Linked DNA regions of Homo sapiens. The protein of the gene in region 1 purifies or fractionates together with the protein of each later gene. This does not show direct contact. Each region holds a gene or a part of one and is shown on either strand. Other genes may lie near its edges. The genes, in order: NCAN and CMTR1.

The links.
Region 2: the proteins of NCAN (region 1) and CMTR1 fractionate together in Homo sapiens (co-fractionation; one large-scale study listed by BioGRID). This does not show direct contact.

What each region holds. Positions count from the first base shown.
Region 1 is NC_000019.10:19,210,653-19,214,903, forward strand, and holds the start of NCAN (neurocan core protein precursor), read left to right. Parts: upstream 1-1,305; 5' UTR 1,306-1,412; intron 1,413-4,251. UniProt on the Homo sapiens protein: May modulate neuronal adhesion and neurite growth during development by binding to neural cell adhesion molecules (NG-CAM and N-CAM). Chondroitin sulfate proteoglycan; binds to hyaluronic acid.
Region 2 is NC_000006.12:37,457,135-37,460,944, forward strand, and holds part of CMTR1 (cap-specific mRNA (nucleoside-2'-O-)-methyltransferase 1), read left to right. Parts: intron 1-1,477; coding exon 1,478-1,676; intron 1,677-2,431; coding exon 2,432-2,550; intron 2,551-3,810. UniProt on the Homo sapiens protein: S-adenosyl-L-methionine-dependent methyltransferase that mediates mRNA cap1 2'-O-ribose methylation to the 5'-cap structure of mRNAs.

The DNA.
Region 1 (4,251 bases):
TCTGTCACTCAGGCTGGAGTGCAATGGCATGGTCTCAGCTCACTGCAACCTCTGCCTCCTGGGTTCAAGCGATTCTCCTGCCTCAGCCTCCTGAGCAGCTGGGATTACAGGTGTCTGCCAACACGCCTGGCTAATTTTTGTATTTTTAATAGGGAAAGGGTTTCACCATGTTGGCCAGGCTGGTCTTAAACTCCTGACCTCAGGTGATCCACCCGCCTTGGCCTCCCAAAGTGCTGGGATTACAGGTGTGAGCCACCGAACCCAGCCCTCATTACCATATTTTTAATGGTGGTCAAATACAGATAACATAAAACTCACCATCTTAAAATGTGTAATTCAAGGCCATGCGCGGTGGCTCATGCCTGTAATCCCAGCATTTTGGGATGCTGAGGCGGGCGGATCATTTGAGGCCAGGAGATCGAGACCAGCCTAGCTGACATGGTGAAACCACATCTCTACTAAAAATACAAAAATTAACTGGGTGTGGTGGCAGGTGCCTGTAATCCCAGCTATTCAGGAGGCTGAGGCAGGAGAATCGCTTGAACCTGGGAGGTGGAGGTTGCAGTGAGCCAACATCGTGCCACTGTACTCCAGCCTGGATGACGGAGCAAGACTCCGTCTGAAAAAAAAAAAAAAAGATTGGGGTCTCATGTCTCATGGCAGGGACATGCCTATGCCTCTGCATAAAGCAAAATTATTCATGTGTCAACAGCAGTACCCAGTCCATAGAGTGTGCTACATAAATGCTGATCAGACAAAGGTGAATGAATGAATGATACAATCTGGCTGTAGTTGCTGGAAACAGCTCGGGGGTGTCACACACCTGGACTCCCACCCTGCGTGCCTCTTACCAGCTGTGTGAACAAGGAGTCTCCCCGTCTCGTCCGTGCCTCAGTTTCCTCTCTGTAAATGGGGTAAACCAGTAATTGTAGCCAAAACTGCTTTGAACGTGAGTCCTGGAGAATCAGGCAGGGCGAGGTTCGAATCCCAGCTCTGCCTCTGTGCGTGACCTTGGGAAGCGACTTTGCCTCCTTGGGGCTCAGTTTCCCCACCTGTAAAATGGGACGGCCTCATCCTGGGGCATAATGGGGACGTTTAACGCGGTTCCTGGGGCAAAGAGAATGGGAGGAGAATCGATGCCATCTTCTCCTGGGTGCGGTGAGTGTCCAAAAAATGGGCGGGGTGGGGATTTTAGGCAGGGGAGCCCCCTCCCTCGCGCAGCCAGAGGCCTCGGGCTGGCGGGGGCGCATGCGCAGAGAGCCCTCGCGGCCCCTTTATAAGCACTGAGGCGGCGCTGGGGCCAGCGGAGCGCAGGGCGCAGGGGCTGGACCCGGCGCGGAGCTGGCTGAGTCGGAGCGCAGCGTCCTTTGTGCCCGGCGGCCGCCCCGGGATGCGTCCGAGCTAGGAGCCAGGTGGGGGATCCGTGAGGGGGCCGTGTTGCGGGAGAAGACTTCGGGATTAGAGACAGAGCTCAGGATTAGGGAGAGGACCTGAGACCAGGGAGAAGTCCCCAGAATGGGGAGGGGGCTGAAGCGGGGGAGGGGAGCCCTAGGTTGAGGAGGGAGCGCGAACTGGGAGGGGGCTTGGGAATGCTAGGTGAACAGACATTTGGGGAGGAAGGTTGTCCGCGGAATCCGGAGACTACCCCCCGGTGGGGAGGGGGCCGGGCTGGGGGTGGGTCTCAGGGTTGAGGAGGGAGCAATGGGAAACAGGGCTAGGGGAGGGGCCCCCCGAGTTTGGAGGGAAGAAGAGGACACCCAGATGCCGAATGGGGGACTCTGGAACAGGGCACCCCCGTATCTCAGCCGAGACACCCCAGGATTTTAAGTAGGGATTCCCAATTTGCGGTTGAATGGAGGATTCCGGGCCGGACTGCAGTGGGGAGGGGGCCCCCAGATCACCCTGTGCCCAATGGAAGGGTATCTGCGCTGAGAGCGAACGGCCATGGGGAAGGGGCTCCCTGCCATCTCCCTGTCCTTTTGGGTCAGGTCCGGTCACCACGTTCTGACTCAGGGAGGAGGTCCTGGGGGTCCCCATCCCAACGTGGTTCCCCGTTATTCCCTTAGACCTTGGGTTGAGGTGTTGTCCCTTATCCCAGGGAACACACTGGGTGTCCCAGGTGAATGTTGGGTGGGGGTCCCCTAGACCCCCCAGCTATGGATCCCCAGGACCTGTGAGGGATACCAGCTCAGAGGGGGGGCTGTCCCCCAGCACCTTCACAGCCTCCCACGTCCTTACAGCATGACACAGACCCCTACCCCCACCCCCTTTAGTTCCACCTGTCCATATGGACACATGTGGAAGCGCTGGCTTGGTTTGGGGGCACAGGGGCTGGGAAGTAAGGGGCTGGGAAGTAAGGGCCCTGTCTGGGCAGGAGAGACCCCCATCCCTACGCGTGGGGCTTTGTTCCTCTCAGGCAGCATCAATGAGAAACAGCCAGGCCAGGGAGAGGGTTGGCTCTGGGCCCCAGCGGGGGACGTGGGGGCAGGGCAGGCAGGAAGGGGTGGGTGCACTGTGGGACCCCAGAACCCAGCCGTCGCAATAGCTGATGGACATTCTGAAATCAAGTTCCCCCTCAAGGATATGGGGGTTTTGTGTGTGTGTCCACCCCAGACAGGCAGGGAGGGGGAGTATGCCCAGGGGTTCTAGGGTCCCCTGTGAGTCTGATGTGACTGTGGTTGTGTCTTTGTCAGAAAACTTGTGCCGAGGGCCACATCACCATGTGGCAAAATGATGGGTGTCCATCGGTCACCAAGGCCACAATTATCCATCTCGGTTTGTGCCAGGGGCTGGCATCGCCGTGTGAGTGAGGAGCTATGTCTGATGCTGTTCCGTTCATCAAGGGGTTTATGTGGGGGGGGGGGGGCCCGAGACTGTGGGTGTGTGTCTTTGTGCAGAAGACACGCCGCCTGTCTTGTAAGTGCCCATATTGTCTCTCTTTGTTAATGTCACTGTGAATCTGTGTGAGTGTGTGTTTCCCCAGGGTCTGTGTCTGGGGTGCGTGGCTGTGTGTGTCCCGCTTGTGTATCTGGAGGGGCCAAGGGTTCTTTCCATGCGGTTGGCAGTGTGCACCCTTGGCACGGGGGTGTGGGACGTGGTCTGTGTTCAGAGTTGGGGCGCTAACAGGGAAAGCTTGAGCAGGGGTTGAAATCCCCAAGGGGAAGCCCGGGATGATGACTGAGCCCATCTCCCTTTCTCCTCCACGGAGTTCCACATTCACACCCATGCACACTAATACACCCTGACTCTCAGGTCAGAAACACACACATGTGCGCACAGCCCCCTGCTGAGGGTCACTCAGACTCACACACATCCACAGATCACACTAGGTCCCATGTGCTCCACCCGGTGCACGGAGCTGCTGCAGGCTCACACACACAACATGCACCCACCACATGGCACAACCGCCTTCACACCCTTGCCAGGACACAACACCCCGGACACACACCCAGTCACAAACACTCACAAATGCCCATTGGCAAACTCACCTTCACTCAGTGCTAACGGAGACTTGAGGTGGGGGTGAAGTGAAGGAGGGGACACACACACACTTACACACACACACTCACACACACTCTCTCACACACACACATTCACATGGATCCGAGCTGCCCCTCCTCCAGCACCCCGCAGGCCCCTGCTTGCATATGCATGAGGCTTGTACATTATTCATGAGGGCACGGGCCCCAGACAGCTGTGTAAATGCTCATCTCTGGCCGCCCTGGGGAGGAGGTATTTTAAGAGAAGGGTGTGGGTGTGTGAGGGTGCGAGTGGAAGGGAGTGGGAGGGTGTGTGTGGGGGGTGTGCACCTGAAACTGTGTCTGTCACCATGTTGGGCAACCTCAGTATATTTTTAGCGTATACATGAGGCTTTGTGTCTAAAGAGCTGTTTTTAAATTTAACATTTCTAGGACTTTGCAAGTCTTAGGTCATTTCATCCTCACAGTAGCTGCAGGTGGTACTTGCTGGATAATCTCCATTTTACAGGTGGGGAAACTGAGGCACAGAGAGATTGAAGCAGCTTGTCCCGGATTAGAAGCAGAGCTATCTGGATGTAGTCTGACCTGTTAACGGGGTGTGTGTGTGTGTGTGTGTGTGTGTGTGTGTGTGTGAGAGAGAGAGAGAAAGAGAATTCTCTGGCCTTGTCCTCTCGTAAGGCCCTGCTGGGGGCAGGTGCAACCCGGAGTCCTGTCTCTCTCTAATACCTGGCCAGGCCTGGAACAGCCATGAGGGGACCCCACACTTGCTCAG
Region 2 (3,810 bases), on another chromosome or scaffold:
GCCTGAGCTCAGGAGTTCAAGGTTTCAGTAAGCTATTATTGTACCACTGTACTCCAGCATGGGCTGAGTGAGACCTCGTTGCCAAAAAAAAAAAAAACAAAAAAACCTGGGGAGAGAGAGCGAAAGCTACTCAAGGGGCCACAAATGTAATTATGCCAAAATTCAAATGATGATTAGTCAGTCCTGAGTTGGCTGGGTGCTCCGAGCGTTGCCTGGAAGCTGCTGTTGCTGCACAACAGTATTTCCTTCCCTCTCTGTCTTGTCAGCTTCTGACTGTGCCCTGCCCCAACCCCACACCCAGCGCTGGGCAGGAGAAGAAAAAAGGGAGTGCAAAAAGGAGAGAGACCAAATGCAGTGTGGTGTCTTGGATTGGATCCCAAACAGAAAAAGAACATTAGTGAAAATCTAAATGAAGTCTAGAGTTTAGTTAATAGTAAGGTACAAATGTTGGTTTCTTAGTTTTGCCAAACATACCATGGTGTAAGGTGTTAACAAAATTGGAAACTGGGTGAGGGGTACTATCTTGGCAACTTTTCTGTAAATCAAAAATTATTCCAAAATAAAAAGTTATTTGGGATTTTTTAAAAGGTGGTTGGGAGAGCCAAGGAGGAAGGGGAGAAAGGAAGACAGAGGCTATGATGGGAAAAGGAAGGTTCCTGTGGCTGGGAGAGGGTGTTAGAGCCCCCCAGCCTTTGGTTGGACAGGAAGACCTGAGTCTAGTGGCTAGGCCAACTGGACCCTGATTTAGCTTTGTTGCAGACTGGCTGTGAACAGATTACTTTGTGACTTTGTATCTTGGTGCCTCTTTTTCCCTATCTGTATATGTGGGGCATATTCTGTTCAGTAGGACTCTTGAAAGGCAGGATATGGTGAGGAAAACACTCTGAGAGATAAAAAATGTAGTCAGATACCCATAAATGTTTTTTGTTGTTTTTGTTGAGACAGGGTCTCGGTCTGTCGCCCAGGCTCAAGTGCAGTGGCGCGATCTCAGCTCACTGCAACCTCTGCCTCCCGGGTTCAAGCAATTCTCATGCCTCAGCCTCCCGAGTAGCTGGGTTTACAGGTGTGCGCCACCACACCTGGCTAATTTTTTGTATTTTTAGTAGAGACAGGGTTTTACCACGTTGGCCAGGCTGGTCTCAAACCCCTGACCTCAGGCTATCTGCCTCTCTGGCCTCCCAAAGTGCTGGGATTACAGGCTTGAGCCACCGCGCCTGGCTCCATGAAGATGTTTTTATGAGGAGTCTGAGCTAGGCCTGGTGATGTGATAGGCATTGTGGGTATTTTGAGGGTGGGTGAGGCAACACTAAAGGGTGTTAATCACCAGAAGATACATTTCCTGGGTGCTGTAGCTCTGGTGGGAGCTCTGGATTGTACTTGCCGAAAGGCTTATTTTACTCTCCCTGCATTCTCCTTCCTGTTGCCCATTGAGCTGTCTTGTTTTCCTTCCTCTCCTGTCCTCCACTTGCCTTTGCAGAAGCCACTGGTGAAGGACCGGGAAGCTGAGCTTCTGTACTTTGCTGATGTCTGCGCAGGCCCAGGTGGCTTCTCAGAGTATGTGCTGTGGAGGAAGAAGTGGCATGCAAAGGGCTTTGGAATGACTTTGAAGGGCCCTAATGACTTCAAGCTGGAGGACTTCTACTCTGCTTCCAGTGAACTCTTCGAACCCTACTATGGTAGGGACATTGAGGAGGGTACTAGGAGGTATGAGGGACAGCCCCTCTATGGGGACTTCAGGTCAGAAGCAGTTGTTATCCACATGCCATATTTTCTTTCCTAGGTCTCTTACCCTGGGCTTCACAGTTCATGTCAGAATCTTGGTTCCCTCTGGACTATCCCTTTTTACCCTGGGCCTGCAGAATACAGGTCAAACACTCCCTCAGCAGATTCTCATCAAGGCCCTATTAATTCCTCCTTTCAGGAACACTCTGCTTTTGTGGTGGCAGGAGATAATGAAACTGCCTGATCTCTGGCTGAGAACTGGCAGGGTTTTTAACAAATATAAACCCAATGCCCATCTCTCGCCCTCTGTGCCAGGTGCAGAATGCACTGGGTTGCAGACAGCTCAGCAACCCACAGCAGTCCCTCTGTTCTATGTTGATTGTAATTTGACAGCAAATCCTAAGTCCTTTCTGAACAGTCCTTATTACAAAATTGATGCCTAAATGTAGGTGCCTTAAACACAACTTGGGTCTTAAAGAGAAAGTTCCACGAGTTGATGACTTTTGACTGGTCAACTCCTTTGGGACTGTGTTTCATTATAGCAGAGTACTGTTGTTCCTCCTGGTCCATCACTGTAAGGGAGCCTTGCAGGATGGGCCCTAGTTCTTGAGACACCTGATGCCCGTCTTCACTGACCCAGAGCACTCGTGTCCCAGCTCCTGACATGTATAGGGCAGATGAACTCACTATGACTCTTGTATTCTGACAGGTGAGGGTGGGATTGATGGAGATGGAGATATCACCCGCCCAGAGAACATCTCTGCTTTTCGGAATTTTGTCCTGGATAACACAGATCGCAAGGGTGTCCATTTTCTGATGGCTGATGGGGTAGGTTACCTTTTTTCCATAGACTGATGCATTAAGGATTTGTTATTTTAGAGGTTTGAGAATTGTTTGTTTTATCTGGTTCTTTAGCTGCTCCCAAAGATGGTATTTCACAGTTCAGATTGTAGAGAATGCATTTTTATTCTTTTTATACATTTTTTAAATGATAATTGTGTAGAGACTGATGTTGTGGATACCTTTGCCTGGAGCAGGGTGATCTTGGTGTTGCTCCTGGTGGAGGCTGTCTATACATGGTCACCTGTAAGCCTCTCATAGGCTGACAGATGGCCACCTAACCAAAGACGGCAGCACAGAGGAATCCACAGGAGGCTCTTGTCAGGGCTGGGTTAAAGTGAATGTTCAAGAGGCCTTGTCTATGGGCAGCTGCTTGAGGCACAGAGGGAAGCCCATTGCAGCTTTGTTCAGCAGAAGCTCTCACCCAGTAATCTGACAATGCAGGCATTCCTTTCTGGAGTGAGCCACCACTTACTCTAGAGGAAGGACAGACAATTTGGCAGCTGCTCCAGGATCATATAGCTAGAGTTGAGAAAAGCCTCTGGGACTCTTTGGGTGGCCTCTTAAGCAGTAGCTGTGTGGCTAGTGAAGGAAGGTGGGCAGGATGTCAGCATGATATCCAAAGATGCCTAGGCTCACCAAAGCACTGTGCACAGCAGGGAACAACAGATGACAGGCTTGGGGCTGGCTGTGAGGGAGGGGCTGCTCTGGCTGAGCAGATGTGGGAGTCTGATAGCGCTAATGAGGCAGCTGTTGCTGTGCGGCAGCTATAGAGTTGGAAGCTCAAGGGCTTTCTGCTTCAGCACTTCAGCAGTGTAAAGGGGTGACCTGGGCTTTTTTTTTTTTTAATTGACCCCATAATCAGGCATGCATTTTGAGAAGCATCTTTAAGTCTGGAAGACACTCCTAAACATTTCTTATCCTGAGTCCTTTAGCTATCACTTCTGTAGAACTGAGTCAGGGACACCTGGGGCGTGTTTAATAGAGGGCAGCGTCCTTTTTTCTTTATTTTATTGTAAAAAACACAAATTTGATCATCTTAATCATTTTTAAGTGTTAACAGTAGTGTTAAGTCTATTCACACTGTTGTGCAACAGATTTTCAGAAGTTTTCATTTTGCAAAACAGAAACTGTACCCATTTAACAACACTGTGCCACCTGATGTCCCCTGGCCTCCTTTACTTTTATGTAAGCCTGACTCTGTCTCCTGCTGGGATCTCACAAGGAGGGAGACCACTCTAGAAATAG